Regions from separate parts of the Homo sapiens genome. Here region 1 is linked to region 2. A link means that fine-mapping ties the variant in region 2 to the expression of a gene that starts in the linked region. Tissue or cell type: whole blood. Region 2 holds a variant in brackets; the other region holds the start of a gene. All regions are shown on one strand. Distances are from middle to middle.

Region 1 (2,687 bases), 21 kb before region 2:
GTTGCTCATCTGAAGAAGTGACGGACCACCTCTTATTTAGTGGACAGACAGTAACTAGTTGAGAAGACAGGGGATTTTGTTGGCGGAAAAAAAATTTTATCAAAAGTCGTCTTCTATCAGGGAGTTTTATGAGAAACCCTAGCTCCTCAGTTCCACAGTGGGTAACTGTAATTCATTCTAGGTCTGCGATATTTCCTGCCTATCCATTTTGTTAACTCTTCAATGCATTCCACAAATACCTAAGTATTCTTTAATAATGGTGGGTTTTTTTTTTTTTTTGCATCTATGAAGTTTTTTCAAATTCTTTTTAAGTGACAAAACTTGTACATGTGTATCGCTCAATATTTCTAGTCGACAGCACTGCTTTCGAGAATGTAAACCGTGCACTCCCAGGAAAATGCAGACACAGCACGCCTCTTTGGGACCGCGGTTTATACTTTCGAAGTGCTCGGAGCCCTTCCTCCAGACCGTTCTCCCACACCCCGCTCCAGGGTCTCTCCCGGAGTTACAAGCCTCGCTGTAGGCCCCGGGAACCCAAAGCGGTGTCAGAGAAGTGGGGTCCCCTACGAGGGACCAGGAGCTCCGGGCGGGCAGCAGCTGCGGAAGAGCCGCGCGAGGCTTCCCAGAACCCGGCAGGGGCGGGAAGACGCAGGAGTGGGGAGGCGGAACCGGGACCCCGCAGAGCCCGGGTCCCTGCGCCCCACAAGCCTTGGCTTCCCTGCTAGGGCCGGGCAAGGCCGGGTGCAGGGCGCGGCTCCAGGGAGGAAGCTCCGGGGCGAGCCCAAGACGCCTCCCCGAGCGCGGCTCCAGGACCCCGTCGACCCGGAGCGCTGTCCTGTCGGGCCGAGTCGCGGGCCTGGGCACGGAACTCACGCTCACTCCGAGCTCCCGACGTGCACACGGCTCCCATCCGTTGTCTTCCGAGCGTCAGGCCGCCCCTACCCGTGCTTTCTGCTCTGCAGACCCTCTTCCTAGACCTCCGTCCTTTGTCCCATCGCTGCCTTCCCCTCAAGCTCAGGGCCAAGCTGTCCGCCAACCTCGGCTCCTCCGGGCAGCCCTCGCCCGGGGTGCGCCCCGGGGCAGGACCCCCAGCCCACGCCCAGGGCCCGCCCCTGCCCTCCAGCCCTACGCCTTGACCCGCTTTCCTGCGTCTCTCAGCCTACCTGACCTTGTCTTTACCTCTGTGGGCAGCTCCCTTGTGATCTGCTTAGTTCCCACCCCCCTTTAAGAATTCAATAGAGAAGCCAGACGCAAAACTACAGATATCGTATGAGTCCAGTTTTGTGAAGTGCCTAGAATAGTCAAAATTCACAGAGACAGAAGCAGTGGTCGCCAGGAATGGGGAAGCAAGGCGGAGTTGGGCAGCTCGTGTTCAATGGGTAGAGTTTCAGGCTGGGGTGATGGAAGGGTGCTGGAAATGAGTGGTAGTGATGGCGGCACAACGGTGTGAATCTACTTAATCCCACTGAACTGTATGCTGAAAAATGGTTTAGACGGTGAATTTTAGGTTATGTATGTTTTACCACAATTTTTAAAAAGCTAGTGAAAAGCTGGTAAAAAGAAAGAAAAGAGGCTTTTTTAAAAAGTTAAATATATAAAAAGAGCATCATCAGTCCAAAGTCCAGCAGTTGTCCCTCCTGGAATCCGTTGGCTTGCCTCCGGCATTTTTGGCCCTTGCCTTTTAGGGTTGCCAGATTAAAAGACAGGATGCCCAGCTAGTTTGAATTTTAGATAAACAACGAATAATTTCGTAGCATAAATATGTCCCAAGCTTAGTTTGGGACATACTTATGCTAAAAAACATTATTGGTTGTTTATCTGAGATTCAGAATTAAGCATTTTATATTTTATTTGCTGCCTCTGGCCACCCTACTCTCTTCCTAACACTCTCTCCCTCTCCCAGTTTTGTCCGCCTTCCCTGCCTCCTCTTCTGGGGGAGTTAGATCGAGTTGTAACAAGAACATGCCACTGTCTCGCTGGCTGCAGCGTGTGGTCCCCTTACCAGAGGTAAAGAAGAGATGGATCTCCACTCATGTTGTAGACAGAATGTTTATGTCCTCTCCAAATGCTTATGTTGAAACCCTAACCCCTAATGTGATGGTATGTGGAGATGGGCCTTTGGTAGGTAATTACGGTTAGATGAGGTCATGGGGTGGGGCCCTCATTATAGATCTGGTAAGAAAAGAGAGCATTGTCTCTGTGTCTCCCTCTCTCTCTCTCTCTCTCTCTCTCTCTCATTTCTCTCTATCTCATTTCTCTCTCTCTCTCTATCTCATTTTTCTCTCTCTCTCTTTCTCTCCTCTGTCTTTTCCCACCAAGTGAGGATGCGAAGAGAAGGTGGCTGTCTGCAAACCAGGAAGAGAGCCCTCACCAGGAACCTGTCCAGCTGCCACCTTGAACTTGGACTTCCAAGCCTCCAGAACTGTGAGGGATAAATGTATGATTTTAAAGTCGCCCAGTGTGTGGTATTTTGTTTTGACTAATACAACCTGAAAACATTTTCCCCTCACTCCACCTGAGCAATATCTGAGTGGCTTAAGGTACTCAGGACACAACAAAGGAGAAATGTCCCATGCACAACGTGCACCCATGCCTGGGTAAAGCAGCCTGGCACAGAGGGAAGCACACAGGCTCAGGGATCTGCTATTCATTCTTTGTGTGACCCTGGGCAAGCCATGAATGGAGCT
Region 2 (2,687 bases):
GAAAACTGGCCAGGTACTGTGGCTTATGTCTGTAATATCAGCATGTTGGGAGGCCAAGGCAGGATTACTTGAGCCCAGAAATTCCAGACCAGCCTGAGAATTTGGCAAAACTCTGTCTCTACAAAAAATACAAAAATTAGCCAAGTTTGGTGGCATGTGCCTGTAGTACCAGCTACTTGGGAGGCTGAGGTGGAAGAATAGCTTGAGTCTGGGAGGTCAAGGCTGCAATGAGCTGTGATCGCACCACTGCACTCAAGCCTGGGTGGTAGAGTAAGACCCTGTCTCAAAAAAAAAAAAAAAAAAGAAAAATCACTAAGCAAAATAAGACATGTGAAGGATCATGTCAAAGGTAAGAAAAATTAGGGGAACATTAAAAGCTTTCTTCCCAAGCCACTAAATCAACTTGACTAACAAAATTACCACTTGATTTAGCATTAGAAAATTACATTACATATCAAACATAAACCCATTAATCAAATACTAAAGAAATTTCTGAGTTAAATGGTATAATGTTAGCTTATGCCAGAGCTGACCTTGAAAGATTGTTCAAATATGGCTCAGTGTGACTGAAAGTTCTGTGTGAATATGTTTTTGGAAAGATCCAACAGCAACACCTTAGTGTATGTTTTTGAAATAAAATGTATCTGAGTAGCAGCAAAGTTATCCATTTCTTCTAGGTCCTCCAATTTGTTGGCATAAAATTGTTCATAATAATCCCTTATGAGCATTTTTATTTCTGAGGTATCTATTGCAATGTCTCCACTTTCATTTCTGATTTTATTTGAGTCTGCTTTTTTTAGTGAATCTAGCTAGGAGTTTGTAGATTTTATTTTTTCAAAGAACCAACTTTTGATTTTATTTATATTTTCTATAGTTTTACTATACTACATTTTGTTTGCTTTTGTTCTGATCTTCATTATTTCCTTCCTTTTGCTCACTTTGGGTTTAGTTTGTTCTTTCTTTAGCTCCCTGGGGCATAGTGTTAGTCTACTTATTTAGATCTTTTTCCTTTTTTAATCTAGGCATTTATTGCTATAAACTTCTCTCTTAGAACTGACTTTGCTGCATACTGTAGGTTTTGATACATTGTGTTTCCATTGTCATTAATCTCAAAATATTTTTTAATTTCCCTCTTGATTTCTTCTTTGACCCGTTAGTTCATCATAAGCATGTTGTTTAGTTTCCACATATTTGTAAATTTTCCAAGATTCCTCCCGTTATTGATTTTTAGCTTCACACCATTGTGGTTGGAAACAATACTAGAAGTGATTTCAACCTTTTTGAATTTGTTAAGGTTTATTTTGTGGCCTAACATATGGTCTATCCTGGAGAATGTTCTATGTATGCTAGAGAAGAATGTATATTCTGCTGTTGTTGGATGAATGTAGGTCTGGTAGGTCCATATGGTCTGAAGTATAGTTCAAATTTAGTGTTGTCTTGTTAATTTTTTGTCTGGTTGATCTCTCCATTGTTGCAAGTGGAGTACTGAAGTCCCCT[A/G]TTAGTGTTATATTGCTGTATATTTCTTCCTTCATGTCCACTAATATTTGCTTTACATATTTAAGTGCTTCAATTTTGGATGCATATATGTTTACAATTGTTATGTCCTCTTGATAAGATGACCTCTTTATCATTAAATCATGACCTTCTTTGTCTCTTGGAACAGCTTTTTACTGGAAGTCTGTTTTATCTGCTATAAGTATAGGCATCCCTGCTCTCTTTTGGTAACTGTCTGTTTTCATGGAATATCTCCTTCTATCCCTTTACTTTCAGTATATGCCTATTCTTAAAGTTTAAAAATGGGTCTCTTGTAGGCAGCATCTAGTTGGATCTTGTTGTTGATCCACTCAGCCATTCTATATCTTTTGATTGGACAGTTTAACCCATGTACCAGCAAGGTTATTATTGATAGTAAAAGACTTACTCCTGCCATTTTGCTAATTGTTTTCTGGTTACTTTGTAGATAATTTGTTCTCTTCTTCCTCTATTGTTGTCTACCTTTGTGGTTTGGTGGTTTAGTTTTCTGCTTTGTGGTTACAATATTGTTTTTTAAATATTCAACATGAATACACTTTCTTGTTTGGATAACGTGTAAAACGTCTACAAGGAGGGATAGATAATAAGTTTTCCCTTCAGAATGCACTGCTTTGCCTGGGATGAGGAATAATTTATAATGGTAACTGTTGCTGGTTAAAATTTGGCTCCTACCCACATTCATGCAAACTCAGCATTCTAGATTAAAAGAGATTTAAGAGACTTGCCAAGCAAATGCATGGCATCCTTAGATGTATCCTGATTTGAATAAAACAGCTATAAATAATAATATTTTGGGGATTATTGAAAAATTTGACTATAGATTAGTTTTCAGGTGATATTGGAGAATTAATGTTATTATTGTTAGGTATGTTAGCACGGTCATGCAGCAACGTGTCTTTCTTTTTAAGAGATGCATACAAAAATATTTGGGTGTGAAATGTTCTCGTGCTATAATTTGCTTTAAAATTCTTCAGAAAAAAAAAGATAAGCAAAATAGAAAAACAAGATAATGGGTACATGTTATCTATTTCTTATTCTCCCTATTTTTTTGTGTGTTCAATTTTTAAAAGAAATTTACTCCATACATATATCCCACCCCCTCCACTAAGGACCCCCAAACTATAAATTGCTGTGAATATAAGAAAAAGTGAAAC

Evidence for each region. PIP is the estimated chance that this variant, and not a neighbour inherited with it, causes the effect.
Region 1: WASHC1 starts here. The variant in region 2 is fine-mapped to the expression of WASHC1 in whole blood (TOPMed, PIP above 0.99).

Annotation. Positions count from the first base shown.
Region 1 is chr9:28,439-31,125 of GRCh38, forward strand. WASHC1 (WASH complex subunit 1) reads right to left here and starts at 1,018. Exons shown (of 11, transcript NM_001378090.1): 1 at 874-1,018. It overlaps MIR1302-9HG (MIR1302-9 host gene), which reads left to right and starts at 1,221. Exons shown (of 3, transcript NR_197460.1): 1 at 1,221-1,444; 2 at 1,904-2,007; 3 at 2,320-2,453. MIR1302-9 (microRNA 1302-9) reads left to right here and starts at 1,706; the gene lies at 1,706-1,843.
Region 2 is chr9:49,304-51,990 of GRCh38, forward strand. No RefSeq gene overlaps it. Among named protein-coding and RNA genes, the nearest start is that of FAM138C, 15 kb to the left of the region's middle. The variant A/G (reference allele first, on the strand shown) is at 1,498.